Linked DNA regions of Homo sapiens: all the other regions are linked to region 1. Evidence: fine-mapped expression QTL. A gene starts in region 1. Each other region holds a variant in brackets. All regions are shown on one strand. Distances are between the middles of the regions. Region 1 holds the start of LYRM2 (LYR motif containing 2). Region 2 overlaps MDN1 (midasin AAA ATPase 1). Region 3 overlaps MDN1 (midasin AAA ATPase 1). Region 4 overlaps CASP8AP2 (caspase 8 associated protein 2). Region 5 overlaps MDN1 (midasin AAA ATPase 1). Region 6 overlaps ANKRD6 (ankyrin repeat domain 6).

Region 1 (4,545 bases):
TGAACTGCAGCATTCTTTGTTAGCACTATATTGAACTTAGAGGTTTTCCTGCCCAAAGCATGAGTCTTTGAGCAAGGAGCATATGTGACTCACGACAGCATTACCAGTGTCTAGCAAGAGTGAGCCCTTTTTTTTTTTTTTTTTTTTTTTTAAATAGAGCTTTGCTCTTGTTGCCCAGGCTGGAGTGCAATGGCGCAATCTCGGCTCACTGCAACCTCCGTCTCCCAGGTTCAAGCGATTCTCCTGCCTGAGCCTCCCAAGTAGCTGGGACCACAGGCGTGCGCCACCAGGCCCGGCTAATTTTTTGTATTTTAGTAGAGACGAGGTTTCACCATGTTGGCCAGGCTGGTCTCGAACTCCTGACCTCAGGTGATCCACCTCGGTATCCCAAAGTGTTGGGATTATAGGCATGAGCCACCGCACCTGGCCTGAGTGTTTCTTGATGGGAAGAAGAAATAATGTAAAAATGTCTTTCTCACATATTAATGTATAGATTCAACACTACTTCAAAATTCCAACCAAGATCACAAGATGATTTGGAGGGAAATGATACAAAACATTTCTAAAGATTATAGAGAACAGTACTAATGGATTTTTTACAAGAAACTAGAGTCCTGCCAGATAATAAAAACATATAAAACAAAAAGTAAAAACTTAACCCTAAATGAAACAATTCTGGACAGATTACTCAGACCCTAAAAGAATTTATCATACAGTCAAAAAGGCATCCATCATAAAGCCCCGAAAAAGGAATGAGTTATGTAATCAATGGTATTGATACAGCTTAACATCTAGAAAAGAACTTAGATCCACGTGATGCTGTAAACCAAAGTAAATTCTAGATGGAGTAAATATTTTAAAAATTAAAGTTTTTAAAAAACGAATTACAAAGGCCTGAATGGGAAATGAAAAGCCTCAAAAGGCACAAAAATACATGATTGTATAAAGTTTCTGTATGTATAAAGAAATGACAAAAAATATAGAGCCCATATAAATGTCCTCATCATAAACGGACCCAAGTCATGAACAATTCACAAAAACAGTATAACTAAAAATGGCGAGGGGTATTTAACTTCACTCCTTTTAAAAAGTTAGCAATTAACTATTACAGCTAATGTATTAGACAAAATTTGGCATATATTATTGATAATATGATCATGCAGTTAGCATCATTCATACAATGCCTGGTAAAGTTCAAAAGAGCTAATGATTAGAGTTCTTACATGTGCCAGGACCTGTTCTCAGTACATTAGAGATACACAACTGAGGTAGATGCTATATTTCACTTTACAGGGGAGGTAATAGGCCAGGAGAGGGGAAATAGCCAGAACACAGCTAGGAATAGGGAGCCCCAGGATGCTAACAGGCGAGGCAAGCAAGTCCCCAGTAAACTAGTAATTGAACATTTTTCGTTCTATTTTAATTCGATACAACACCACTTGGAAAATTAATATGGCAAAGATTCGCTAACTCCACTTCTAGTGATTTAACCCAAAGGCATGTGTATTGTGGGAAAGATAAAACAACTATAAGGAAATAAAAGCAAAAGCCTGAGGCTTAGGGATGTTAGGCTCCTCGTTATTAGTGATGAAAAGTGCTTAAGACTGAAGTGGGTGAGCCATTCAAAGCTTTGTTTCAAATGATCATGAAGGCCACCGCTCCCGGAAAACCTTTGCGCTACAAAAGAACAGGACAAAAACGAGAAAGAGAAAAAACCAACACAAACTGTAAAAGAAATTAACACTTTCAATTTTAGTATTTTCAACTATACACATTTTTAAAGGCTCGAAAGAACATTTAAATACGTTTTCACCTCTTTCCCCCAAAAAAACCTTAACTTTTTTTTCGAGACAGGGTCTCGCTCTGTCGCCCAGGATGGAGTGCAGTGGTGCGATCTCGGATCACTGCAACCTTCACTTCTCGGGTTCAAGCGATTCTCCTGCCTCAGCATCCCGAGGAGCTGGGATTACAGGCACCTTACAGGCCTCCCAGAGTGCTTGGGACTGCAGGTGAGAGCCACCGCGCCCGGCCTCCTTCACTTTCATTTGAACTCTCTTTACCAGGAACTGTGTTAAGTGCCCTACCTTTCTTCTTTATCAAAACGACCCTATGGTGCACTGTTATCCTATTTTACCGACGAGAAAACTTCGGCCAGCGCAGCAGCTAGGGCTCAGTCCCGAAGCCTCGCGCTCTCAGTCCGAGAGCAACCCGCGGGCCGTCTCCTAGGAAACCGGGCTCGCCACACCCCTTGGTCGAACCCCACTTCCGCTCCTGCGCGCTGAGGCTCCGGCGGACCTCTGGTGGACATGGCTGCTTCCCGCTTACCCCCAGCGACGCTAACGTTAAAGCAGGTACCGGCGGTTCTCTGCCTTCCAAAGCAGCTTACCTGGGTCTGAGCTGGATTCTCCATCTGTCCCTATCCCCAACGGGGCGGGTTCCGGGGTCCTGATGCGGCGTGCGCGCCCTCTGAGATTGGCCCGATGCCTGCGGGGCGGTGCTTCGCTCCGCGGGGCCTGACGGGAGGCACTGGCTGCTTCCTTGGTTTGGTGCGATCGCGTGAGACAGCGTCAGGCGCTTGATTTCCCTGAGTCCCGGTGCCTCAGCTGCCCAGTGCCCACGGTAAAAGTCTATTGCACTGAGCTGTGGCAAACAGCAAATGAGATTACCAAAGATTTGAACAACTGTTAATTTAGAAAAAGTGCTGTCGTTGTAATAACAACTTCTAGGAGACCGGCAGCCCTTTTCAGCCCGGTAGGCAGCTCCTGATTTTTTAATGGTTCTTAGGTTTGACAGAGCAGTAAGCAAAAAGATCAGATGAACCTCGTGATGCTTTCTTTAAAACATCTTTTTGAGACAGGGCCTCACTCTCGCCCAGGCTGAGTGCAGTAGCGCAATGAAGGCTTACCTCAGCTTAGACCTCCTGGGCTCAAGTGATCCTCCCATCTTGGCCTCCCAAAGTGCTGGGATTACAGGCCTGAGCCACTGCATCTGGCCAAAAAAAGAAAAAAAAAAGTTTTTCTTTGCCTTTTTCAAAATTGACCAACGAGAAGTACTCTGGTTACAGCTTGGTTTGCTGAAGTAGAACTTTCCAGGCTGGCGATTGTGCAGTAGTAATTGCTATTTACTCCTCCCTTTTACAGTTCGTAAGAAGGCAACAAGTTCTTCTCCTCTACAGAAGGATTTTGCAAACAATTCGGCAAGTTCCAAATGATTCTGATCGCAAATACCTGAAAGATTGGGCAAGAGAAGAATTCAGAAGAAACAAAAGTGCCACCGAAGAGGTGAGAACAAAATCATGGTGAGGACAGATCCTAACCCTTTTTATTGATCAGTGAATTTTTTTTTTTAAGTTTAGCAGACATCTTGGAATATAGTGCCACTGAGCTGGTATATCTTGATCATTGCTTGTAATGTTACCGATTTTAAATTATTATTTTAAAATTTAGTATTTTAAAATATGTAGATAAAAGAGTATCTACACTCTTCAGCATCATCACTTGACTTTTATGTTGTACATTTTATATGTATGTATGTGGAACTCTTTTAGCTTTTCTAAAAGGCAGCAGTTCCAATAGGTAGTATTGGTTCTTGATTTTAACAGATAAAATGGTATAGCTATACCTTGTTTAACCAGGTAAAACTATAACCAGATTTCACTTTATTCTACAGGATACAATCCGGATGATGATTACTCAAGGCAATATGCAGCTCAAGGAGTTAGAAAAAACACTTGCTTTAGCAAAATCTTAACTATAGCATTATTCTGAAGGATTTTCAAAGTCTCCATGTGTTTTGTTGCATTTAGGATTAACAATGGACAACACAAAGCCCAGTCTTACTATTTATATGTACAGTATTTGGTGATAGAGAGCAAAGGAAAAACACATCAGAACAGTTGCCTTAACACTGAAAAACATACCCTGCATTTTGAAAATGTTTATGGATGTCTCAGCAGTTCTTAAAAGAAGAAAAAAACCACTAACAAATGGCCAGTAGATGCTGGACACAATCATTAGGGAAGTGTAAATCAAAACTACTATGAGGTCGGGTGTAGTGGCTCATGCTTGTAATCCCAGTACTTTAGGAGGCTGTGGTAGGTGGATCACTTGAGGTCAGGAGTTCAAGACCAGCCTGGCCAGCATGGTGAAACCTCATCTCTACTAAAAATACAAAAATTAGCTTGGTGTGGTGGTGCATTGCCTGTAGTCCCAGCTACTTGGGAGGCTGAGGCAGGAGAATCACTTGAACCCAGGAAGTGGAGGTTGCAGTGAGCTGAGGTCGTGCCACTGCACTTCAGCCTGGGTGACAGAGTGAGACAGTCTCTAAAAAAAAAAAAAAAAAACAACCCTGAGATTCACATTCACTAGAATGGCTGTAATTAAAAAGAGAAATAATAATAAGTCTTGGTGAAGATGTACAGAAATTACAGAACCCTCATACATTGCTGGTGGGAATGTAAAATGGTGTAGCCACTTCAGAAAACAGACGGTCAGTTCCTCAAAAGATGAAACAGCTGCTGTATGAGTTAGCACTTCTACCCCATGC
Region 2 (5,114 bases), 100 kb before region 1:
TTGAGTGGCATGATGGGCCTCTGGTTCAGGCCATGAAGGAGGACGGCTTTTTCCTCTTGGATGAGATCTCATTGGCCGATGACTCTGTCTTGGAAAGACTCAACAGGTACGTGCCTGAGAGGTTTGCCTTGTGTTTGATATTTTTGTTGGTGTGATTTTTTTTTTTCTCCCTGAGACAGTGTTCTCACTCTGTCACCCCAGGCTGCAGTGCCGTGTCATGATCATAGTTCACTGTAGCCTCAAACTTCTGGGCTCAGGTGATTGATGTGATTTTTATAGATATTTAATCTTGTGCACAGTAATACTTCTCATAGGTGCACCTTAGTAAATGCTTGAAATTATTGATGTATTACCATGTCTTTTGGCTTTAGCATTCAGTGTTTCCTAAATTTCTAGGTTTTTTTTGCTATCAATAATCAGAACAATGGGATCGTGGAATGGTAGGGCTAAAACATGAGCCAAAGTCAAAACTATTTTTTAAAGTGAATTATATCCCTACTCTCTTAATATTTTGAAAGAACTGTAGTCAGAATCCTAGACCCATGGCTATAAGCCATCATCAGACCTCAGACCAATATGAATCTTGATGTAGTAACACCCATTTTTTCTTTTGAGGTATAGTTTACATATCATAAAATGTATATTTCAGTGAGTTTTAGTAAGTTTATAATCCCATGATGGGTTCTTCTTGCAAGCTATATGCATAGAACTGAGTCACTGAGTTAGTGGTATTGCAGTAGAGAAATAATTTAGTAGTTGCAGAGCTAGCCAAGTGGAAGGACAGGAGTTTATTACTCAAATCAGCTTCCTAAAAATTTGGAAGATAGGGGTTTGTTTGTTTATTTTTTTAGACACAGTCTTGCTCTTTATCCCAGGCTGGAGTGCAGTGGTGTGATTTTAGCTCACTGCAACCTCAGCCTTCCAAGTTTGATTGTTGTGCCTCAGCTTCTTGAGTAGCTGGGCTACACATGTGTGCCATCAGGCCCAGCTAATTTTTGCATTTTTAGTAGAGATGGGGTTTTGCCATGTTGGCTAGGCTGGTCTTGAACTCCTGACCTCAGGTGATCCGCCCACCTTGGCCTCCCAAAGTGCTAGGATTATAGATGTGAGCCACTGCACCCGTCCTGGAGGCTAGGGTTTTTTTGTTTGTTTTTTGAGACAGAGTCTACTTCTGTCACCCAGGCTGGAGTGCAGCGATGCGATCTTGGCCCACTGCAACCTCTGCCTCCTGGGTTCAAGCCATTCTTTTCATTCAGCCTCCTGTGTAGCTGGGACTACAGGCATGTGTCACCACTCCCAGCTAATTTTTGTATTTTTAGTAAAGATGGGGTTTCACCATGTTGGCCAGGCTGGTCTCGAACTCCTGACCTCAAGTGATCCTCCTGCCTCTGCCTCCCAAAGTGCTGGGATTACAGGCGTGAGCCACTGTGCCCGGCCGAGGCTAGGGTCAGAGGCCTAGAGAATGGGGAATGCTGTTGGGACAGGGTTGAAATCACAGGAAGTTGAGCTATCTTTTTGCCCTAAATAAGTTCATGGGATCATAAGACCTGTTGAGCCACTTCTTGGTATGGGTTTCCATTCCAGGTGGTGCTAGCCGTTTTATCAGAATCAGGGTCTGAAAAGTACCTTAAACACTAATCTTAGGTTTTATAATAGAGATGTTATCTTATAGGAGCAATTGGGAAGGTTATGAATCTCGTGACCTCTGGCTGTGTCCTGAGCCGTAATTTTAACCTTTTGGTTAGTTTTATGAAGGAGGGGTTAGTTTTGGGGGGGCGCTATTACTTTTCTTTTAAAGTTGAACTGTAAACTAAATTTCTCCCATAGTTTACTTGGCCTATACCCAGGAATGAACAAGGGCAGCTTGGAGGCTAGAAGAAAGATGGAGTCAGTTAGGACAGGTTTTTGTGTTTTTTTTTACTGTCATAACTTTTTGTTAGACTTTTTTCTCACTCATAATTTTTGCAAAGGTGGTTTCAAGCTTTGCAACCATCACAATTTAGTTTTTGTGTTTGTTTTGTTTTGAGACAGCATCCTGCTGTATTGCCCAGGCTGGAGTTTAGTGGTACAGTCTCAGCTCACTGCAGCTTCTGCCTCTCGGGTTCAAGTGATTCTTGTGCCTCAGCCTCCCGAGTAGCTGGGATTACAGGCGTGAGCCAGCACAGTCTGCTAATTTTTGTATTTTTAGTAGAGAT[GGGGTTTCACCATC/C]TTGGCCAGGTTGGTCTCCAACTCCTGGCCTCAAGTGATCTCCCCACCTTGGCCTTCCAAAGTGCTGGGATTACAGGCGAGAGTCACTGCGCCCGGCCTACAATCCAGTTTTACAACATTTCCATCATTCAATAGAATCCTTTGTGTGCATTACACTAAATTTCTGATTAATCTCTTTTTTGTCTCTGCAGATTTCTTTTCTGGGTATTTCAGATAAAAGTTCTCTTCTCTTACTTTGCATTGATGTTTTGAGGTTCATTCCTATTTCAGCACGTATTATTAGTTTGTTCCTTTTTGTCCCGAATAGTATTGGATATACCACATTTTGTTTATCCATTCACCAGTCAATGATATTTGAGTTCTTTCTAGTAGTTGGCTATTATGATAATGCATGCAATTTATTTGTTTTCTTGTAAGTTATTCATTTTTAAGACCAATGCCTTAATAGTTTATAAGTTGAAAAGTTTTTTTTTCTTGATCAGAAATAGCCATTATTACACAGAAATTGGGATAGTGAGTCATTTTAAAATTTGTGATAGGAAACCATTAACTAAAGTAAAAATTCAGTAGAAAGAAGATAACTTTTTTTTTTCTTTTAAAGAGCATTGAAGATTGTAAAACAGAAAGATTGTATAAGCCCTTTTCACTGTTCTTCAATTTTTCTTTTAGTGTCCTTGAAGTAGAAAAGTCTCTGGTATTAGCTGAAAAAGGCAGTCCAGAGGACAAGGATAGTGAAATAGAGCTGTTGACTGCTGGGAAAAAATTTCGTATTCTAGCAACCATGAACCCTGGGGGTGACTTTGGAAAAAAGGAGGTAAAACTTTACTGATGCACATTTTCTTTCTAGGTTTTGACCTCAGCTTACTGGTACTCGTAAATATAGTATGTAATAATGGATTTGGAATTTTATGTTAGGTAAAAAGTGGGTAAAAAGTGTAAAAACTCAAAAATATTTTAAAATAATTATTGGGTTAGAAAAAAATTCTGACACAAATATCTCCTTATTTGATATCTCACTTTGTGTATGTGCCTGAAATGTCATTGTTACAGTCACTTTGCCTAGCCCTTTACATATGTTACCCTGAGAAAGCTCACAGGAGCTCTGCAAGAAAGTTATTATTGTAGTTTTATGGATGAGAAAAGTTGGATCTGAAATTTAAGTTTAACCTCTGTTTTTACAGTCCACTTTCTTAAACACACCTCTGCTTTCATGGGTGGTTTTAAAGTGACAAAAAAGTCACAACCAGGAACCCTCTTCTGGTTTGTAGATGGAGCTTATTTGTTCTCGTAAGGGTTATGTGTGTCACTTTCTGACTGCTGATAAAGTAAAGGGCAGAGGGTAGTTCCTATGTTCAGAGGGTTGTGTTCAGATATATTTGGGAACCAACAACCTTGTTGGTTTCCAGCTCAAGAAACCTTTCAGTGGAGAAGTCAGCACTATGTGTTGGATCCCAGTCTGTTAAAGTTAGGAAGAGAGTGATGTAACAGGTCAGGGATGATGAGAAGAAACAGAGGGGTTGATCTTAAATAAGACAATTAAGAGTGTTGGTAATTTGGTGGGTAGCTGAAATGATATATTGGGCCTAGGTTTCCTCAGTATCATAAGATGAAAATTGTCTCTATGCTTCAAGATATGCTCTGAAGAGAGGGAATAAAATACATTGCATTCAAAATATAAAAACTGGCTTCTGGGCAAGTAGAAATGCCACAGAGAGGTCTGATTTCAAGTTTGTGTATATTAGCTTGGCTGTCAGATTATCTTATCTTGTTTTCCTCAAGTCAATGCTTGCTGACTTTTACCCAAGGGAAAGTTACTTTTTAGTTTCGCATGCCTAACAAGCAGAGCAAGGTAGGATGCTGGACACCGGAGGTACTGGTTGTCTATGATACTGATGAGGTACACACACGTATGCTTTATTCCTGGGCCTCTGTGGTAGACCAGATAGATGATCATCAAGTAAAAGGAAAGTAATTACAAAGTAATCAGACAAACCAATAATGATGCTTATGTGGCATTGCAAACATTTGTGAATAGTGTCAACTGACCTTGTGGTGGGAAAAGGAATCTACAGGGGCAAAGGCCCTAAGACTGGAGTGGCTAAACAATTTCTTGTTATTCAAGAGGTAGAATATATACTTTTTAAAATCACACTCTCATTGAGCTATGTAAAAGAAGTTTCTTCCTCCTACATCAGACTGCCCTTCTCTGTGGGAAGACAGGTGTTTATTTTCTCTGAAGTATTATTTAGGTACCTGATGCAAAGTAAAGGTAAAGTAAAAGGAAGAATCTTTGCCTGAGGGGAAGAGTTCAGATTTGACTGGGACTGGCTGGAATCCTGCTTCCACCACTTAGTCTGTAAGGCCTCTGGACCACGTCTATTAAGAAAGTGATGATGATACTGGAAGGTGTCATGGAATATAAGGAGTCAAGACAAAGTACATCTTCAATTAATTATATCTGATAGTAGAAATAATTTTTAAAAGTGTGTAGTATTTGCTGGACTTAACAGCTAACAACATTCTTTCAAGACTTGTTTTCCAGCTTTCCTTACAGTTTTAAAAATTCACATTGAAGTTTTGTGTTTCTTATAGCTGTCTCCTGCCTTAAGAAACCGGTTTACAGAAATATGGTGCCCTCAAAGCACAAGCCGTGAAGATTTAATTCAGATCATCAGTCATAATCTTCGTCCAGGATTGTGTCTGGGCAGAATAGATCCTAAAGGTGAGAGTTTGCAGGTGGTGATGGTAGTATTGGGTCATAGAAGGGTTTGTGTTGGGAGTTGAGGGATCTCTTACAGGACATCAGCCCTGTGTGTATATGGTGTGTTATAAGAAGAAAGGAGATAGGTAAATGAAACAAAGTAGACAAGGAGAATATTACTATTCTGTTACCTTCTGTTAAAGTG
Region 3 (5,114 bases), 31 kb before region 1:
AGTGCCAAAATCACTAAGAACTTGGTCTCTTTATTTATACGTGCAAAGTCATTGACAAGCTTTGAAGAGCTTAGGGCTTGCTAGCTAATTGTTAGATGCATAGGTGCAGAAATGCTAACCATTCAGAATATCCATTATATTAGGATTCTTTCATATCTTATTCACATACTCCCAAGTATCTGATGTTACTGATAGACGATGTTATCAACTGAGGCTTAGCAGCCATCCTGTGTAACCACCATTCCCACTACAATAAGCGAACAGAGTAAGCAGTTGTAGTCTTTACAGTAAGTCCAGAGAAGCAACTTACTTTGCAGGACATTGTATGTTATTCTGTAGCATTGCCTCCGGTGCTAACTTTGAATCAGCAGAATTTATTTATAAACATTTTATTTTTCTTATTTTATTTTGGGACACGGTCTCATTCTGTTGTCGAGGCTGGAGAGTGTGGTGGCATGACCATGGCTCACTGTAGCCTTGACCTCCTGGGCTCAGGTGATCCTCACACCTCAGCCTCCCAGATAGCTGGCAGTATAGGCATGCACCACCATGCCCAGCTAATTTTTAAAGTTTTGTAAAGATGGGTTCTGGCTATATGTTTTTTTTGTTTGGTATTTTTTGTAGAAATGGGGTTTTGCCATGTTGCCCAGGCAACATGAACTTGAACTCCTGGGCTCAAGCAGTCTACCCACTTTGGCCTCCCAAAGTGCTGGGATTAAAGGCGTGAGCCACTGTGCCTGGCCAACATTCTATTTTTAAAAAACCAACATTGTTAGCCAAAGGAGACATCGGTTTGAGATTGTACTTTTGTGACGATATATGTAAATGAAGAAATCTCAGTGAGCTGTGTGTATTGGGGTGGGTGGAGGTTACAAACACATACATGTAACTTGCCATTAGTACTATTTAGTACATTCACAATGTTGTGCAATTACCACCACTATCTAGTTCCAGAATGGAAACCTGGTACCTGCCAAGCAGTGTGAGCAGGCCTTTTGTTTTGTTTTGGTCTCAGTTCTTCAGCCAATCCTGTTCCTTGCTGGTGCGCCTGGTGCCGGTCCTCTCCAGCTACTCAGACCTCGTCCTCTTCTTCCTGACCATGTCTTTAGCAACTCACCGTAGTACTGCAAAGCTGCTCTCTGTGCTTGCCCAGGTCTTTACAGAGCTTGCCCAGAAGGTAAGGACTGTTCACATGGTGCACTGTGAGCAGCAGGGACCCAAGTAAATTTCATGTCATTAGTCTTTGGTGTGATAGGCTTTTATTTTGGACCACCACAAATAGCAGGATGTGATTTGCTCTCCCTGTGGATTATTTAGGGCTTTGTCTGGCATCCTTTTGCTAACGCTGTTTCCACTAAAGTCTCAGAACCTGCAGATGATACCTCCTATCCCCAACCCACCCTTTCCCCCAAACTGACGAGTTCCCTAAACTCCAGCGCTGTCTAAAAGCTGCTGCCGTCTGTTAACACCCTTCCCTTCCCATCCCCAATGTAAATCTTCAGATAACTCTTGAACTAGAGTTGTAGGATAAACCCTTAAGGCTATTAAGTTTTCTTTTAACCATGTTGGTGTAATTATGATTAAATGATAATGGGCCTGTTATTATTAGAGTGTTTTTCGCCTGTTGTGGTGGCTCACGCCTGTAATCCCAGCAGTTTGGGAGGCTGAGGCGGGTGGATCACCTGAGGTCAGGAATTTGAGACCAGCCTGACCAATATTATGATGAAACCCCATCTCTACTAAAAATACAAAAATTAGCTGGGCGTGGTGGCATGTGCCTGTAATCCCAGCTACTCAAGAGGCTGAGACAGGAGAATTGTTTGAACCCGGGGAGGCGGAGGTTGCAGTGAGCCAAAATCATGCCATTGCACTCCAGCCTGGGCAACAAGAGCAAAACTGCATCTCAAAAAAAAAAAAAAAAAAAATATATATATATATATATATATATATATATATGTTTTTTTGGAGACAGAGTCTCCAAAATTGTAATTGTAATTGTAATCTCCACGTGATTACAGGCACGTGCCACCACGCCTGGCTAATTTTTGTATTTTTAGTAGAGACAGGGTTTCACCACATTGGCCAGGACGGTCTCGATCTCCTGACCTTGTGATCTGTCCACCTCGGCCTCCCAAAGTGCTGGGATTACATGTGTAAGCCACTGCGCCCAGCCAGTTTTTTTCTTTAGCAGGGAAGTCATTTGTTCATTCAGCCATGTACCCGGTATTGTGAAAAGCACTGAGGTTGTAGAGATTGTAGACCCTCCCCTTGAAACTCAGGGGCAGTAGACAGTGAAATCTAACAGCAACATGGTGTGGGTAGGTCTAGTCATAGAGATATCCAGCTCTCGGTCTCTCTTAACCTCACCAAGCCTCAGTTTCCTCATTTGTAAAATGAGATCTGCCTATACTAATATGCATTTTTGTGAGAACCACCTGCATTTGAGTATATAAGTTTTGTTTTTGTTCTTAGCA[T/C]TCTAAGATTTTCTCCAAGCTTAATACAGATGAGATGTACTTGAGGAAGATATGAATTTACAAACTGAAGATGGGGTCTAGATTTCTTATAAACAATTAAGAGTTCTTAGTTCCGAGTCTCTGAAATACTGGAAAGAGGTAAAAAGTGGAAGCCAAGCCTAATGCCTTGTATCAAGAGGATAAATATGTTTATCTGTAGTAATGATAAGTAACAGTAATAATAATAATAATAAAAAGTAATAATAAGTAAAAGAATGAGTCTCAGGTTTCTCCGCCTCTGGTGGGCACCAGGCCAGCCTTAACATTCCATTGCTTCTTGGAGAAAACACTGTATACTAAAGATAGTGGCAGGAAAATGTGTGGTTCGGGTGCCTTGAGATTTGGCTCAGCTGGATTTGTCCATTTGTACCGTAGCTTTTGTCTGACAGGCTGTAGAATGACTTTGGCCTTTCAAACCTTTGTCTGTTGCGGGTAGGAATGGTTCTGATATGTGCAGAATGTTGGGAGCCCTGTGGCTATCCCAGACGTAGCAGCTGCAATGATATACTCTGGTAAGGGCATCTGAAACTCCCTCCTATGTGGTCGTATTCTTTGTCTATTTCTGAATGTCTCTCATTTAAATAATGTAGTTCAATGGGAAAATTAAGCAAGTAAGCCAAACTGTATTTTCCTATCAACATTCTGAGAATATATGTCCTAAAAGTGGGTTTGGCTTGTTAAAAATTTTTCTAAGTGTCCAAATTGTATTCATATCTTTTCTGAGTAGTTCAAGGGAACTTGAGAGTAGGTTAGACAGTGCTAAGATAATAGATCTAGGCTGTAATTAAAGCTCTTGATCCGCAGGAAGCTGTTTCTGTGTAACCAAGTCATAATTAGTGTTTACTGGTTTGGGATCTTAATTCCTTGCTAATTAGCAGCTTATTTTTTTGTGCATTCCCATCCTCAGATATATCTTCATAGTATATATTTTCTCTTACAAAATTAAACTTTCTGATTGAGAGTCACTACTACTTTTTCTTTTTACTTCTGCTCAGCAGGCTAGTATTCTTCTCAGGTTATTTTCCTGTATAAAATAGTTTTTTTCAACATTTCACAGTTATTACTATGTCTGACTGTGTTCTCTCCAGAGCCTGTTCTGCCCTTACTCAAGGACTTTTTCCAAAATACTGTCCTTCTAGTATACTTCATTTAGGTTTTTGTCTTGGCAAAGTGACAAATGACCACATGCCAGAGGCTTCTACAAAGTCAAGTCATATGTTAAATCTGATGTCAAGCTGTGAAACTGCATAACTATTAGCACCAAAGAGGAGAAGAATGTCAGAAGTCTCCTGTACTTCCAGCGGATTTAAGATAATGAGCTAGAAAAAGAATTCAGTATGTGTTTAAATTGTTTTCCTGTGGCAAGAATGAAATCTCCTTTTAAAATTGCTTTTGTGCCTAATTGTTCACTTCCTTTTTCTTTTTTCTAAGGGATTTTGCTTGCCCAAAGAATTTATGGAAGATTCAGCTGGAGAGGGAGCAACTGAGTTCCATGACTATGAGGGAGGTGGAATTGGAGAAGGCGAGGGCATGAAGGATGTGAGTGACCAGATCGGAAATGAAGAACAGGTACGTTTTCACATAGGTATACAGTTGACAGAAGATCACTCTCTTTCTTTTCAACATGTAAGTTACACATAAAAATGGTTTTTACTAGGTTAATAATTTTTAATCTGTGATCTACAGAGCCCTAGATATATTGGTGCTTCGGCAGTGGGTGTAAATAAAAAGCCTAAAATCCACAGGAAGGAACCTGGCAACTCCATCATTGGTTTTGGCTATAATTATGGAGGAAATGATTTTTACTTTTTTTTTTTAAATGGGCAGATATTTACTGATGATTTTCTAGAGTATTTTTGATAGTATTTTTAAGCATAAAAGGCCTGGCTATCTTAAGTGATAATTGCATTAAACAATAATGCCAAAATTTGCTGTTAATAGGTTTTACTGTTGTATATCTTTAAGGCATAGAGTGTTTTAAAAAATCTGTATCCTTTTTTGGTTGGAATCAAGCAACCTTCTGAACTATTCAGATGCTGTGAACTAAGATTGTTACATTGCTTGGATTTTTTAAATGCCTGTCTCATTTGTGAGTGATTTATGTGTATTGGGTGTATCACTTATATTCTAAGTTAAATCAGATCAGAAACTTGTATTTAAGGTAATTTTATAGTTATTAAAAATAAAGGAGAAAACCAATTCAAATTCCCTCCCTTCCTTGGCAGAGAAAACTGGAAAGCAATTAAAAGCCAAAAGAATAATGCTAGTATTTATGTTATGGAGCTCTAATTTTTTTTTTTTGGACCTATATTGTCCTTAGATAATTGCTTTGTTATTTTGGCCTTCTGTATTTCTCAAATCTAAATCAGTGTATACTACTTTTCTAGTAGAAAAAAAAAGTCAAAAGCAAAAGCAAATCTAATAGAAAAGTTCACACAAAAAACATTACATGGAATAAAAAGCTTCCAGAACAATTTGGTAGTGTCTGCTGAATTTTAAATTATGTGTATTCATTGACCCCCAAATTCCATGTTTTCTTATAGAAATGCTAGTGTCAAAGATAAATAGGTATATGAGTGTGTATATATGTCTACACATGGA
Region 4 (5,114 bases), 220 kb before region 1:
CCCAGCTACTTGGGAGCTGAAGCAGGAGAATTGCTTGAACCTGGGAGGTGGAGGTTGCAGTGAGCCGAGACTGCGCCACTGTATTCCAGCCTGGGTGACAGGGCAAGACTCTGTCTCAGCCTCAACCTCCTGGTTGAGAAAGAAATTACCAGCTTTGGCCAGATGTGGTGGCTCATGCCTCTAATATCAGCACTTGAGGAGGACAAGGCGGGAGGATCATTTGTTTGAGCCCAGGAGTTCATGATCAGCCTGGGCAACATGGTGACATCCTGTCTCTAAAAAAATTTTTTGTTTTAATTAGCCAGGCATAGTGGTACATGCCTGTGGTCCTAGCTACTCGGAAGGCTGAGGTGGGAGGATCACTTAAGACCAGGAGGTTGAGGCTGCAATGAGCCATGATTGCGCTATTGCACTCCAGCCTGGGTGACAGAACGAAGTGAGACCCTGTCCCTAAAAAAAAGAAGAAAAAGAAATTACCAGCTTCCAACTAAATTAGCCTGTTTTTAAAACATGAAATTCTCTTTCATGTGCCTTGCTCAAATAAGTTTTGAGGACCTGAGGATCTATCCCAATACTTGCCAATGGCTCTTAGACTTACTTCACTACAGTGCATAACTCCCCAGCTAACCACAAGTTCACTTCTTTTAGAACAAGTGACATTATTTTCTTGCCTTATTCATTCTAGCTCAACTGAAACACAAGGAAAAGTAAAATCTTGCTAAACAACAGACATGAACAAAGTAAAACTCTACATAATTCTCTATCCTAGTTTTCTGTTTCACATACAATCCCACAGCAAGCCAAAGCACCAAAGGCCATCTTAAGATGTTATATACTACGCAAAGTAAAAAGGAATAAAGAGTTGTAATTCTTTCCTAGGAGAATGGTATATATTTACTGTTTAAAACAAACAAAAATCTAAGTCTTAAGGTTTTATATTAGTGTTTAAAAAAACTGGTAGGTTTCCTAGCAATAAAATGTAGATAGCTCAATTTAGCTTTTTTTTTTTTTTTTTTTTTTTTTGAGACAGGGTCTCCCTCTTTCACCCAGGCTGAGTACAGCGGAATGATCATGGCTCACTGCAGCCTTGATGTCCTAGGCTCAAGCAATCCTCTCACTTCAACCTTCCAAGTAGCTGGGACTACAGGTACAAGCCACCATGCCCAGCTAATTTTTAATTTTTCGTAGAGATGGGATCTCACTATGCTGCGCAGGCTGGTCTCAAACTCCTGGACTCAAGCAATTCTCCTGCCTTCGCCTCCCAAAGTACTGGGGTTACAGGCGTGAGCCACTGTGCCTGGCCTATATTGGCTTCTGGTAATAACTTCATCTTCCAGAAATTCCATAATTTCTCTGAAATTTCATATATCTTTTTCTAATCAGTAGCAAATGTGTAGAAAAACCCAAAACTTAAAAAACTCAGAAATATAGGCAGATTGTTATAAGAGAGGATTAGAAAAACACACAACCTAAAACAATATGTAAGCCTCATATGAACCCTGTTATGGATTGTGTCCCCTCTCCTGACCAAATTCATAATTTGAAGTTCTAACCCATTGTTCTTCAGAATATGACCTTATTTAAAGGGTCTTTACAGAAATAATCAAGTTAAAGTGATGTCCTCAAGGTGGGCATGCAATATTACTGGTGTTCTTATAAAAAGGGGGAAATTTGGACACAGAGATACATTTAGAAAGAGGATATAAAGAGACATAGGAAGTAGACAACCATCTAAGAGTACAGAGGCCTGAATCAGATCCTTCCTTCAGAGCTCTCAAAAGAAACTAACTTTGCTGACACTTTCATTTTGGACTTCTAGCCTCCAGGACTGTGAGACAAATTTTGGTTGTTTAGGCCACCCATTTCTGGTAGTTTTGTTACACTAAGCCTAGGAAACTAATATAGATACTGACTCAACCGACCAACTGTTGGTAGATACCTTTGAGATCATTGGGGAAATGTAAACACGAAAAGCACTAACCACAAAAGGAACACCCTTGAAGCTGGGTGCAGTGGCTCATACCTGTAATCCCAGTACTTTGGAGGGCCAGGCGGGCAGATCACTTGAGATCAGGAGTTTGAGACCAGCCTGGCCAAAATGGTGAAACCCCGTCTACTAAAAATACAAAAAAATCTTTTTTTTTTTTTAAATTTTTTTTTACAGGTGGTGCATGCCTGTAATCCCAGCTACTCGGGAGACTGAGGTGGGAGGATCGCTTGAACCCAGCAGGCAAAGGTTGCAATGAGCTGAGATCACACCACTGCACTCCAGCCTGGGCAACAGAGCAAGACTCTGCCAAAAAAAAAAAAAA[G/AG]TCTGGGCACAGTGGCTCACGCCTGAAATCCCAGCACTTTGGGAGGCCAAGGTGGGTGGCTCACCTGAGGTCAGGAGTTCAAGACCAGCCTGACCAACATGGTGAAACCCCGTGTCTACTAAAAATACAAAAATATTAGCTGGGTGTAGGCTGAGTGCGGTGGCTCATGCCTGTGATCCCAGCACATTGGGAGGCCGAGGTAGGTGGGTCACCTGAGGTCAGCAGTTCGAGACCAGCCTGACCAACATGGTGAAACCCCGTCTCTACTAAAAATACAAAAATTAGCCAGCGTGGTGGCGGGTGCCTGTAATCCCAGCTACTCGGGAGGCTGAGGCAGGAGAACGCTTGAACCTAGGAGGCGGAGGTTGGAGTGAGCCAAGATCACGCCACTGCACTCCAGCCTGGGCAACAGAGCGAGACTCCATCTCAAAAAATAAAAAAATTTTTTTTTAACTAGCCGGGTGTGGTGGCGAGCGCCTGTAATCCCAGCTACTCAGGAGGCAGAATCGCTTGAACCTGGGAGGCGAAGGTTGCGGTGAGGTGAGATTGCACCATTGCACTCCAGCCTGGGCGACAGAGTGAGGCTCTGTCAAAAAAAAAAAAAAAAAAAAAAATGGCCGGGCACAGTGGCTCACGCCTGTAATCCCAGCACTTTGGGAGGCTTGAGGCAGGCGGATCATGAGGTCAAGAGATCAAGACCACCCTGGCCAACATGGTGAAACCCCATCTCTACTAAAAATACAAAAATTAGCCAGGCATGGTGGCGCGTGCCTGTAGTCCCAGCTACTCAGGAGGCTGAGGCAGGAGAATTGCTTAAACCCAGGAGGGGGAGGTTGCAGTGAGCCAAGATCGCGCCACTGCACTCCAGCCTGGCGACAGAGTGAGACTCCATCTTAAAAAAAATAAAAAGTGAGTTAGCAGAAAGAAAGAAAATGAAAACAAGTTTACAAGTTTAGACAACTTTTTCAGAGGTTAGGCTATGAAAATATGAACCTCTCTGGAGCAAAATATTGCCTCCAACCAATAAAAGAGAGAAATTAATGGAGAAAATCCCCTTGAGAAAGAAAAGAATATACAATTGAGAGATAGTATAAGGGCTGTTTATTAATAGGGTATATGAGCACAGATGCCCTCTTGATATTTTAGTAATTTAGTGGGGACCTAGAAGAACCCATGACATATATACCATCATCTCATCAGGGCAAACAGTATTAGAGCAAGAACTCAGTGTTTTAGGAAACTAAATATATTCAGATAAATATGTGGCAATGTTCTATTTTTATTTGCTTCCTTTTTTTTTTTTTTTTGAGATGGAGTCTTGCTGTCACCAAGGATGGAATGCAGTGGTATGATCTCAGCTCACTGCAACCTCTGCGTCATCCCAGGTTCAAGCAATTCTCCTGCCTCAGCCTCCCAAGTAGGTGGAATTACAGGCACCCACCACAGGCACCCACCACCATGCCTGGCTAATATTTTTTTTTTTTTTGAGATGGAGTTTCACTCTTGTTGCCCAGGCTGGAGTGCAATGGCACAATCTCGGCAACCTCTGCCTCCTGGGTTCAAGAGATTCTCCTGCCTCAGCCTCCCGAGTGGCTGTGATGCTGGGTATGCGCCACCATGTCCAGCTAATTTTGTATTTTTTTTTTTTTTTTTTTAGTAGAGATGGGGTTTCACCATGTTGGTCAGGCTGGTCTCGAACTCCTGACCTCAGGTGATCTGCCCGCCTCGGCCTCCCAAAGTGCTAGGATTACAGGCATGAGCCACCATGCCCAGCCAAATTTTTGTATTTTTAGTAGAGACAGGGTTTCACCCTGTTGGCCAGGCTGGTTTCGAACTCTTGAGCTCAAGTGATCTGTCCCCTTCAGCCTCCCAAAGTGCTGGGATTACAGGTACGAGCCACTGCGCCTGGCCACAATGTTCTATTAATAATCACATATGGGCCAAGCATGGTGGCTCACCCTTATAATCCCAACACTTCAGGAGGCAGAGGCAGGAGGATCACTTGAGGCCTTGAGTTCAAGACCAGTGTGGGCTACATAGTGAGACCCTGTCTCCACCAAAAATAAAAAATAAAAAAATTAGGCAGACATGGTGTTGTGCACCTGTTATCTCAGCTACTTGGAAGGCTGAGGAAGGAGGATCTCTTGAGCCCAGGAGGTGGAGGCTGCATTGAGTTATAATTACACCACTGCATTCCAGCCTGGGTGACAAAATGAGACCCTGTCTCTAAAAAAAAAAAAAAATTAAAAAATAAAAAATAAAAATACATTATTTTCATCTTTCCTCTAAAAGTTAAAAATATTCCACATATCAATACCCACGTAATTTATAACAGCTACACCGCTCAGTAATACCTTTGGTGAAGATTACTTATTTCTTCATCCTTGCGGTTTATTTCCACTCTGGCAGTTTTGATAAGTGCTGAAATATTCTTCTTAAGAGACTGGTTTTCGTTTATTAAGCTGAAATTCTAAAACACCACAAACTATATTAATAAAGTACATACCTATAGGGTTACTAATACTACTACATACATTAGCTGATAATTATTGAATGTTAACTACATGCAGGCATCATACATTTATAAGCCCTATGAGGAGTACTATTTATCCCCCTTATACAGGTGGGGAAGCTGAGACTATGAGAAGATAACTGGCACCAGAAATAGTCCCACTTAAAGTGAAACTACTTAAAACAGAGATTGAAATGAAAAACCAATGAACAGCAGAAAAAGTAAGTTCTGCCTGGGTCATGATCTTGAAAATTGAAAATAAAAATGGTAAGAATTAGGTTATAATTTAA
Region 5 (5,114 bases), 42 kb before region 1:
GCAAGTGAACTGTCTTCCATTCAGAATCTGAACAGGGCACTGAGGGAGACCCTGTTAGCCCAACCAGCAGCTGGGCAGGTACTTGGTTGTGGGACAGTGCTGGCTTATTCCCAAGCCAGTCAAGTGGGATCTGTGTTTTATGTGCAAGGCATGCCTCAGTACTAGACAAGAAAATGCCTTTGAAATCTTGTTCTTTGGACATATATAGCATGTATTTGCCTGACTTCCCTGCAGAATAAGGCAAAAAATCTTGGGGTTTTTTTTTTTGCTTTTTTTTGAGACAGATTCTCGTGCTATTGCCCAGGCATGATTATGGCTCACTGCAGTCTCAACCTCCTGGACTCAAATGATCCTTCCACGTCAACCTCCTGAGTGCTGGGACCACAGGCACATGCCACCATGCCTGGCTATTTTTTTTTTTTTTTTTTTTTTTGTAGAGATGAGGTCTCACTTTGTTGCCCAGGCTGGTCTTGAACTTTTAGTTTTTTTTTTTTTTTTTTTTTTTTTTTTAAGACAGAGTCTCGCTCAGGCTGGAGTGCAGTGGCACGATCTCGGCTCACTGCAAGCTCCGCCTCCTGGGTTCATGCCATTCTCCTGCCTCAGCCTCCCGAGTAGCTGGGACTGCAGGTGCCCACCACCACGCCTGGCTAATTTTTTGTATTTTTAGTAGAGACAGGGTTTCACTGTGTTAGCCAGGATGGTCTCGATCTCCTGACCCCATGATCTGCCCACCTCAGCCTCCCAAAGTGCTCGGATTACAGGCGGGAGCCACCGCTCCTGGCCGAACTTTTAGTCTTAAGTGATCCTCCCTGCCTCGGCCTCCCAACGAGCTGGGATTATGGGCATGAGTCATCGCACTTGGCCTTGCTGCTTAAAATTTAATGTCAGCCTGTGAGAAATAATTGTGCTTTTACCTGTGAACATTTCATCTGCTATGAGCAAAGATTTGAAGCATCAGTTTAAGAATATGCCGTTGAAGCTGCCTGTGGGCTACCACATGAGGAAGCTACTGCACAGGGTGTGAATATGTGCCGTGATGTGCTGGTTTATAGCAGATGCTGATTACTGTGGTGTAAATACTCCTATTATGGCCAATTTCAAGCACCAACAGTTAAGATTTGGCTTGCAAAATTCCTGAAAATTTAACAGTGATACATCTTGAGTTAGCAGGTCTGTTACAGAATGGATGTTCCTGCTTCATGTCCTTGGGTGTGGGGAGCTCCAGGATTGGAAGACACCCCTCAGGAGAGTAATTTCTGGGCAGGCGTAGTGGCTCACGGCTGTAATCCCAGCACCTTGGGAGGCTGAGGCAGGAGGATCACTTGAGCCCAGGAGTTTGAGACCAGCCTATGCAACGTATGAGACCCTGTCTCTCCAAAAAAAATTACTTTTTAAAGAGTAATTAGCTTTGTCTTCTTACTGTATTTCCTACCTGGGGCTCACAGAGTTAGTAATGAAAGTCCTTAAGCTATTTTTGTTATTTTAGTGGTTCAAAACTCATAATAGAAACTGAGCATACAGCCATAAGATGGCTGCAGAGATATGATATGGCTACCAAATTTATTTTCTTTTGACTGTATTTGTCAGCTCACTGCTTCTGTCATTCTGATCAACAATTTTGATTTGCTAATAATGACAACATAGGAGTTTCAGGTTATTCCTCAAGGAAAAAAAAATGAAAATATGCCCTTGATGGACGAAAGCTCTTCCCTTCATATAACATCTGAATTCCTGTGTCTGAGGTGCGGTGGCTCATGCCTGTAATCCCAGCACTTTGGGAGGCCAAGGCAGGCAGATCATTTGAGACCAGGAGTTCGAAACCAGCCTGGCCAACGTGGTAAAACCCCATCTCTATTAAAAATACAAAAAATAGCCAGGCATGGTGATGCATGCCTGCAATCCCAGCTATTCGGGAGGCTGAGGCACAAGAATCACTTGAATCTGGGAGGCGGAGGTTGCAGTGAGCCAACATCGGGTCACTGCACTTCAGCCTGGGTGACAAAGCCAGACCCTGTCTCAAAAAAAAAAAGGAAAGAAATCTGAATTCCTGAAATTTAAACTGTTAATTAGGGGTAACTGGTCACAGGAGTAGGACCAGTTTCGCCTGGCTGCTGTGTCTGAGAAACACAATGTGGCTCAGCACCTTAAGGGCAGCAGTGATATTATTCATTCTACTCTGTTCATAATTCAGAACTGGAGTCTCCTTGTGGCTATCATAGCAAGCATTGCTGGATGTAGGGGCATGGGGGTCCTTCAGTTATAATGATCTCATATGGAGCAGTAATATGGTTTTCTAAATATCCACAGTATGTCTCTTTTAATTTTAGTGATGCTACATTTGTTCTCTATTTGCTGAACTAGGGATGTGTTTTTGTGTGCAACAGTTAAATTTAGTTCCCTTGCAGGGACACTGCCTGTCATTCTTGGCAGTGAGGCTAACCTGTCTTTTGTCTCACAGGCCACAATTCCAGAGTGGTGTCAGGGC[G/T]CTGCTCCTTCCGGCTTGGAAGGGGAGCTTCTGCGTCGCTTGCCAAAGCTCAGGAAACGCATGAGGAAGATGTGCCTGACGTTCATGAAGGAGAGCCCCCTGCCTCGCCTTGTGGAGGGCCTTGATCAGTTCACAGGTGGGTGCCAGCATCCAAGTCAAGGGTGGATCTTTCTGTTTTCCCCAGTGGCGCAGGAGGGCTGAGAATGTGGCAACTGTGTCCTTTTTTGATACCTTGTGTAGTGTTGAACAGTTGATTGAATAAGCAAGTGGGCTTAAAAACCCACAGAGCTCAGAAACAGGAGCCTACTGAGAACACACAATCATAATTTTCACATTGTCGTCCTCTCATGTAACTTGGCACTGTGCCATCTTTTATGAGAGCCTTGTCTATACTAGTTCCTGTTGGTTGGTGTTACCAGTAAAGGGGCACAGAGGTGGATTTCCCAGTGTCTAAGCTGTCCCCACTGTCAAAAAGTTGTCTCACTTGAGGAGGATTCATCCCCATCCTCTTGCTTTCTTCACTTCAGAGAGGCACAGCAGTTTCATTTCTCAGGCTGTCTTTGCTCAGGGAAGGTGAGAGCGAAGATCTCATAGTGTAACACAGCAATAGCTGGGAAGGGAACCCAGAATTTAATAGAATGTTTGGGCCCCTGGCAGCCTCTGACTACCTCCTTCACCCCATCTACCCCCCAACTGCAGTGAGTGTGCTGTCAGTGAGGGTGGCCTGCCTTTAATGAGGTTGCATCTAATCTCAGGGAGCTCTTCCTTTTTAAAACTTGTCAGCCGTTGCTCAAGGTGACTCAGGCCTAGGGGTGGGGGTGAGTGGAATACAGATCCATTTGCATCTCCTGGAGAGGGGATGCGCTGCAGGATGCAAAGCCTCCCTCATCCTCTAACTCTCCCACACTGTCTGATGTCTTTGGTGTCCTTGTGCTCACTGGTGACTGCCTATATTTGGCTGGTAGTGCTGCCTTAATATAGTACCACAGACTGGGTGGCTTCAGTGTGAGGCTAAAAGTCCAAGATCAAGGTGTCAGCAAGGTTGATTACTTCTGAAGCCTCTCTCCTTGGCTTGCAGATGGCCACCTTCTCACTGTGTCCTCCCGTGGTCACTCTTCATCTGTGTGTTCTGTGTCCTGATCTCTTCTTTTAAGGACTTCAGTCAGATTAGATTAGAGCCCATTCTCATTTCACCTTCATTACCTCTCTAAAGGCCCTGTCTCCAGATACAGTCACATTCTGAAGTTCTAGGGGTTGGGACTTTAACATATGAATTGAGGGGGAAGACACAACCCAGCCTATAACACTGCCTGCAACAGGGAGGCGGCACCCTTGTGTTATTGGTACCCACGTGTATTCAGGAAGGCAGCTTGGTGCTATATAGAAAGAACTTGGGCTTTGGAGTAAGGTAGGCCAGTGTTCAAGTCCTGGCTCATCTACTCGTTCACCACATGGCCTTCAGATAGTGACTAGACCTCACTGAGCCTTTCTTGAAGTCTGTAAAATGGAGCTACAAATAGGTGCTTCTGAAGTTGTGCACATGAAAAGAGAATTTACGATGTACTAGCTACAAGTGGAAACTCAATACATATTATATTAATCTGAAATTTCCTTCAAGTGATTATAAATTTCTAGTATAATGCACTGCACATAGTTGGTGCTCAGTAAGTGCATTTGCTTGATTGATTATAAAACCCCTAAATACAAAAGAATGACTGCTGCTGTTCGGGTTGTTATTGTCAAGAGATTTGAAATCCTGTGTGTTATTTTTCTATTTCCATGCACCTTGACCAGTTTGGTTAAAACACTTAATGAGATTTTACCAAATGCTAGGGACTATGTTAAGTACCCAGGGTATAAAGATGAATGATACTTGGCCTTTGTTCTCCAGAAGGTCCCTGGTGTTGGGTAACAAACACATTACCAGACCCCTGGGATTTTCTTATTGTCTCCCCTCCCCGCCTTGTTTTCCCTTACAGGTGAAGTGATTTCCTCTGTGAGTGAGCTGCAGAGCTTAAAGGTGGAACCCTCTGCAGAGAAGGAGAAGCAGCGGTCAGAAGCCAAGCACATTCTCATGCAAAAACAGCGAGCTTTGTCAGACCTCTTTAAACACCTTGCAAAAATTGGTAAGGTTCTCACTTGAAACCCAATGAAATGTAGTCACCAACTTTTAGGGAGAGAAATGACATGACTGATTTTGGGGGAAATTCCATAGACAGTTGAGATGGTGGACAACAGAAGGTACAGGCAAGGTTTCCAGATGTCTAAGAGTTCCACTCACATGCAGGAAAATCCTATGACCAGCCATCCATGATTCCCAAATATTTCCCGCTTTGTATGAGGTTTCTCGGAATCTATATTTTTATTTATTTATTTAATTAATTTTATTTTTTTGAGACTGAGTCTCGCTCTGTTGCCCAGGCTGGTTAGTGCAGCGGTGTGATCTCAGCTCACTGCAACCTCCGCCTCTTGTTGCCCAGGCTGGAGTGCAATGGCGTGATTTTGGCTCACTGCAACCTCTGCCTCCTGGGTTCAAGCGATTCTCCTGCCTCAGCCTCCCAAGTAGCTGGGACTACAGGCGCGTGCCACCACACCCGGCTGATTTTTGTATTTTTACTAGAGACAGGGT
Region 6 (5,114 bases), 26 kb after region 1:
TAAAGAGACGGGGTCTCATTCTGTTGCCCAGACTGGTGTGCAGTGGCAAGATCATGGCTCACTCACCACAGCTTCAAACTCCTAGGCTCAAACAATCCACCTGCCTCAGCCTCCTGAGTAGCTGGAACTACAGGCACATGCCACTCTGCCCAATTTTTAAATTTAATTAACTTATTATTTATTTATTTTGAGATGTAGTCTTGCTCTGTTGCCCAGGTTGTAGTACAGTAGCATGATCTCGGTTCACTGCAACCTCTGCCTCCTGGGTTCAGGCAATTCTCCTGCCTCAGCTTCCTGAGTAGCTGAGATTGCAGGTGCACGCCACCACGCCTGGCTAATTTTTGTATTTTTGGTAGAGACAGGGTTTCACCATGTTGGCCAGGCCGGTCTTGAACTCCTGAACTCGAAGTGATCCACCCACCTTAGTCTCCCAAAGTGCTGGAATTACAGGCATGAGCCACCACGGCCGGCCAAATTTTTAAAAAAATTTTTTGTAGAGACAGGGTCTCGCTATGTTGCCCGGGCTGGTCTTGAACTCCTAGCCTCAAGTGATCCTCCTGCCTTGGCTTCCCAAAGTACTGGGATGTGAGCCACTGCACCCGGCCTCCCTTGCTTCTTTACTAAATCACATTCTTCCTCGTGGGTTTTCTTTTTAAAATCACATTTAAAAAACAAAGCCTGCCCCAGGATCTCCAGAAAATGTTCAATATGCAAATGTGGTGATATGCACAGGAATTATAAGGGCACACTTTCTCTAGCAGGCCAGATAAGCCAGGGCCACTAGAACTCAGTGTGACACCCATGCAAAGCCCACTGCTGGCTGAGTCCCAGGTAGGTGACATGGCAGCTTCCCAGCAGCCTCTGCTCCCGTTTGCACTAACAGACCTGTCCGGTAGCCTTGTGGGAAGGGTGCTGGCAGCCATGAAGAGAATACATGCACTGACCTGGTTCTTTTCATGGACAGAACAGAAAGCAGTGAGGAGGAGCCTAATGATGGACAAGTGATTATAGCGCGCAGCAACGTGCAAACAGGTGTCTCCTGCCTGCGGACAAAAATCAAACTCTAAGCACAATCTGAGCAGTTACAAAACAAATAGAGAAAAGTAGAAAGAAAATGTTATTTAAAAGCTAGCAGACTATCATGTACTCTTTAGGGAATCATAAGCAGCTCTTTTAACATAGATGCTCCACCCCAAGGCTCGCCATTCTTTGCTGCTGTGGGCAGCCCTGCTCCCTTTCTGCCTGTGCAGAACAACCACGTGGTCACAGAATCACTGCTTCCACGTTTATGAAACTAGACGTCTGCTCCCCATGAGACCTTTCCAAGAGCTAAGGCAGGCTCTGCTTACCTGTGCTTGAGGAGGATCCAGGGACCCTAGCCTCCCTACAACCCAAAAGGTCAGTAGTATACTGACTTAAGACCAACAGCATTGCTTTGGAAATGAGCCCTTCCCAGCATAGATCCCTCATGGATGAAAGGACAGGGCAGCAGGGGGGTTGTCAAATCTTAAGATTACACGTACCCCCTGAAGTTCAAGGAGTATCCCACTTCAGTTGGACCCCAATATCCTATATGGAGCTATGTAGTAGGGGAGCTCATAAGGAAGCAATCACTGGGAGCAAAAAAAGGGTATGAAGAAAAACTCAGGGGCAGGATGCTCAGTAAGCACAACAGGCAGAACCCTGTTCCCACAAAGACAATAAAGAACTGGAGACAAAAAGCTGCCTGCAGTGTTTTCTTGCCATTTCCATCCTAGCTCTGTCTGGAGAACACTGGCCACTTGGCATACTTTTCTCCCCTGCATTAAGACGGAACCAAGCTCAAAGCTGAGGTTCAGAGCATTAGATGAGTCTACCCCAAACAGGGAGACCCTCACCTGAGGACACTTTAGAAAGAAGCCTCAGATTTATTTATTTATTTAGCCAACGTGGCTAAGGCAGGGGATTTATAAAGGAAATACAGCTTCTTTGTGAAGAAGCGATACCCATGTGACCTTTCCGGTCAGCTCATCCCAAGGACGCCTCAGTCATCAGTAGGACCTGCTCGCTATAGATGCTGGGCATGGGGCATTAGAGGACCTCCCCTGTAAATGGCACCAGCTCATATTTGCTGATAATAGTACAACACTCAACACTCTATGTGGGTAGAGACTTTCTTAAAACATTAACTGGTTTCCTAGTCTGTAATTGGCCAGACACGTACTGTAAGAAATGATAAACCAAAGATGAGGCATGAAGGGAAAATGATGGGAGAAAAGCAGTATTTCCAAGTCTTTTGATTCTTCTTCTCACATGCCTGAATGATCCCTTAGAAAATTGCCAAAAAAAGAACACTTTAGAGATAGTCCCCAAATACTTTTTACATTTTAATTTCTAGATGTTAAGGTTCAAGTATGCTCATGAAGTTATTTTCTGAAGTGACACAAGAAAGAGAGAACGTGAGAATCTGGTTTTGTTCACCCACATTATTTTTGAGGTCAGCGCGGGACCCGGCCAGCAGGAGGACGCGCGTGCTCTGGGAGTGGCTGTTCTGGCAGGCCAGGTGCAGAGCTGTGTTCCCCGCCTTGGAGAGAGGCAGAGAGAGGGAGGACATATTAG[C/T]AACATGCTTCCGCACAGACTTGCATGCCTTGCAGAGGGGCAGTACTTACTCGGGGGAAAAGGCAACGCTCACATTCTCTGCCTCTTGCCCGATGGTTTCAGTGGGGATGCTTCAGAGGTAAGAACATTTAATTTGGAGTCTGAACAGGCAGAAGAGTCCTATTTGTCATAAAACCTTGGTTCCAAGTCCTGGCTCTGCAACTTACTAACTAAAAGCCAGCCTTTTCAAATGCTCAAATTCCTTACCTGGGAAATGGAGCATGACCCCCACATCCTAAAACTATGGGGATTGACTCAGAGTGTCTAGGAAGGTGTTTTCTTAACACACAATGCTGGACACATGCACAGTACTCAATTCCTATCAGATGACTTCCTGCCCCACATGGGCAATAGCTGTGGTTACAATCCCTGCCAATGGTGGGCTAAAAAAAGTAAAACTAGCCACTTCCTGGAAGGGCAGGCTAATGCAACTGAGATTTAACTTGTTAGCCTTTTTCAAGTCACCCATTCTTGTATTTTTCTTGAAACATCAAAATTTTAACTATGGACACCAGGCCCTGCCTTTCAGGCAGTACAGTTGCATCTATCACTTAGGACACAGATTGAGACCCTCTTGCTTTTTGGGTCCTTCTTGTTTTTGAGAACCTCAACAAACCACATCACAATGACAACCAAGGGTCAGAATAAGGTCCATAGCAATACTGCAGGAAAAAATTGCAGGACATGAACAGAACTTTTGAGTCTATGGGAGTAGGGCATGTGAGGCCGCTGATAACCCCTAGAAAAGTAACAAGAAAGCAAGGCCGTGTGATAGGTGACATTGTGTCATCCAAGAGCCTGCAAGCACTCAGGAGGTTAAACACAGAAGCTCCGCGTTGGTTCTGCTGAGCTCAAGTGCTGGGTCAGGCTTGCAGGTGCGTGGGCTCAGAGCATTACACTGCCTGTTCATTGCTTCTCCCTCACCTAGTTCACACCCTTCTGGATCTCACAGTCCTGGCTGCCGATACTCCAGTATATCAGATTCCTGATCTTTTAAAAAGAGAAATGAGTTAAAAAAAAAAAAAATAGAGGAATACTGGATGCGGCCAGTTTGCTTATCCCCCTTCTCTTCACCTTAGCTCCAACCAGCCCTGGTGGACCTTTTGTCTCACTTTTACCTCCAGGCACAGGGAGGATTACAGGCCTGAGGTTCTAGCAGGCTCGCTGGTTCTCAACCCTTGGGTGCACATTAGAATCACCTGGGGAAGCTTTCAAACCAGCCCTGTGCACAGCCACAACCGTTCTAGGGACTCTGATTTATGTGGCCTTGGGGATGGGTATCCAGCATCCCTATTTTAGTACTGAAAGTCCCACATTCCGGGAAACCCTTTAGCCCAGGGCAAACTGGGACAGTCCATCACCCCAGGCCTGGTCTTCAGGTTTTTTTTTTTTTTAAGTTTTGTTTTTTTTCCTTTTTCGTTTGTTTATAGTTCCCCAGGAGGGTCTAATGTGCAGCCAGGTGGAGAACCACTGCTAGTTTAGTTCTCAGCAACAAGGGGTCTGCCCAGGTTTTAAAAACACTACTCTCAAGTTGTCTGCAAGTTATGGGCTTCATGGCAACCACTAAATACGTGTTGAATACATGAGTGAAATGAAAGAAATCTGATGCCTCTAGAAATAGATCATACCAAAGCTTATATTGCCAATAAGGAAATATCGATGATGTGGAAAAGCATTTGCACCAAGAAAATTAAAAACCATAGGTTTGGATAAACAAATTGTGGTAGATCCACACAATGGAATACTCCTCAGCAATAAAGAGGCGTGAACCATTCCTCCATGTAACGACACGGAGGAATCTCAAAAACATTATGCTAAGTTTAAGAAGCCACACACAGAAGGCCGCATACTGTATGATTCCATTTACATGACCTTTATGAACAAGCAAAACAGATCCGTGGTTGCCCGGGGCTGGGAGAGGGTGACTGGGGGCCTGCCACCAGAGGGCGCAAAGGAACATTAAGGGGCAATGGAAACATTCTATATCTTATGGTGGGGGTTACACAACCGTATACATTTGTCAAAACTCACAGAACAGCGTGACTTCATACCTATATCTCAAAACCTGACATTAGAAAATGTGACCTAGGGTAGATATATATGTAGCAGGCGTTTTTCCCCACCCTGAGTAGTGGGTACTGATTTCCCAGACAGGAGCTGCTACATCTGCTGAATAAGAAGGATCTTTCTACGGGCTATGGCTGGTACAAAATGTCCCTCCCTTTGAGACGCATGAGTTTCCTGACCTGTCCTTCTGAAGCCATTTTATTTACACAGAAACAATTTCTGGGCTGGGTGCAGTGGTTCACGCCTGTAATCCATCACCTTGGGAGGCCGAGGTGGGTGGATCACAAGATCAAGAGATCAAGACCATCCCAGCCAACATGGTGAAACCTCGTCTCTACTAAAAATACAAAAATTAGCTGGGCATGGTGGTGTGTGCCTGTAGTCTCAGCTACTCAGGAGGCTGAGGCAGC

Evidence for each region. PIP is the estimated chance that this variant, and not a neighbour inherited with it, causes the effect.
Region 2: its variant is the best candidate, but not a certain one, in a credible set for the expression of LYRM2 in esophagus mucosa (GTEx, PIP 0.54).
Region 3: its variant is the best candidate, but not a certain one, in a credible set for the expression of LYRM2 in subcutaneous fat (GTEx, PIP 0.68).
Region 4: its variant is the best candidate, but not a certain one, in a credible set for the expression of LYRM2 in whole blood (INTERVAL, PIP 0.66).
Region 5: its variant is the best candidate, but not a certain one, in a credible set for the expression of LYRM2 in gastroesophageal junction (GTEx, PIP 0.88).
Region 6: its variant is the best candidate, but not a certain one, in a credible set for the expression of LYRM2 in unexposed skin (GTEx, PIP 0.57).

The regions. Positions count from the first base shown.
Region 1 is chr6:89,636,478-89,641,022 of GRCh38, reverse strand. It overlaps LYRM2 (LYR motif containing 2), which reads left to right and starts at 2,276. Exons shown (of 3, transcript NM_020466.5): 1 at 2,276-2,351; 2 at 3,141-3,281; 3 at 3,670-4,545. The coding sequence starts at 2,307. The coding sequence ends at 3,750. MDN1-AS1 (MDN1 antisense RNA 1) reads right to left here and starts at 2,491. Exons shown (of 4, transcript NR_111915.1): 1 at 2,387-2,491. RefSeq lists enhancers at 2,477-2,526, 2,747-2,976, 2,329-3,528.
Region 2 is chr6:89,738,142-89,743,255 of GRCh38, reverse strand. MDN1 (midasin AAA ATPase 1) reads left to right here. Exons shown (of 102, transcript NM_014611.3): 31 at 1-106; 32 at 2,878-3,022; 33 at 4,801-4,930. Among named protein-coding and RNA genes, the nearest start is that of MDN1, 79 kb to the left of the region's middle. The variant GGGGTTTCACCATC/C (reference allele first, on the strand shown) is at 2,196.
Region 3 is chr6:89,666,982-89,672,095 of GRCh38, reverse strand. MDN1 (midasin AAA ATPase 1) reads left to right here. Exons shown (of 102, transcript NM_014611.3): 83 at 1,016-1,177; 84 at 3,945-4,082. All of the region lies in intron 1 of MDN1-AS1 (MDN1 antisense RNA 1), which reads right to left. Among named protein-coding and RNA genes, the nearest start is that of LYRM2, 31 kb to the right of the region's middle. RefSeq lists a silencer at 3,592-3,886. The variant T/C (reference allele first, on the strand shown) is at 2,475.
Region 4 is chr6:89,856,752-89,861,865 of GRCh38, reverse strand. It overlaps CASP8AP2 (caspase 8 associated protein 2), which reads right to left. Exons shown (of 10, transcript NM_012115.4): 6 at 4,667-4,782. Among named protein-coding and RNA genes, the nearest start is that of CASP8AP2, 29 kb to the right of the region's middle. The variant G/AG (reference allele first, on the strand shown) is at 2,313.
Region 5 is chr6:89,678,096-89,683,209 of GRCh38, reverse strand. MDN1 (midasin AAA ATPase 1) reads left to right here. Exons shown (of 102, transcript NM_014611.3): 73 at 1-78; 74 at 2,459-2,621; 75 at 4,465-4,611. The region is part of intron 2 of MDN1-AS1 (MDN1 antisense RNA 1); the gene reads right to left. Among named protein-coding and RNA genes, the nearest start is that of LYRM2, 42 kb to the right of the region's middle. The variant G/T (reference allele first, on the strand shown) is at 2,486.
Region 6 is chr6:89,609,721-89,614,834 of GRCh38, reverse strand. ANKRD6 (ankyrin repeat domain 6) reads right to left here. Exons shown (of 16, transcript NM_001242809.2): 6 at 2,465-2,563; 7 at 945-1,043. The region is part of intron 1 of LOC124901359 (a long non-coding RNA gene); the gene reads left to right. Among named protein-coding and RNA genes, the nearest start is that of MDN1-AS1, 26 kb to the left of the region's middle. The variant C/T (reference allele first, on the strand shown) is at 2,599.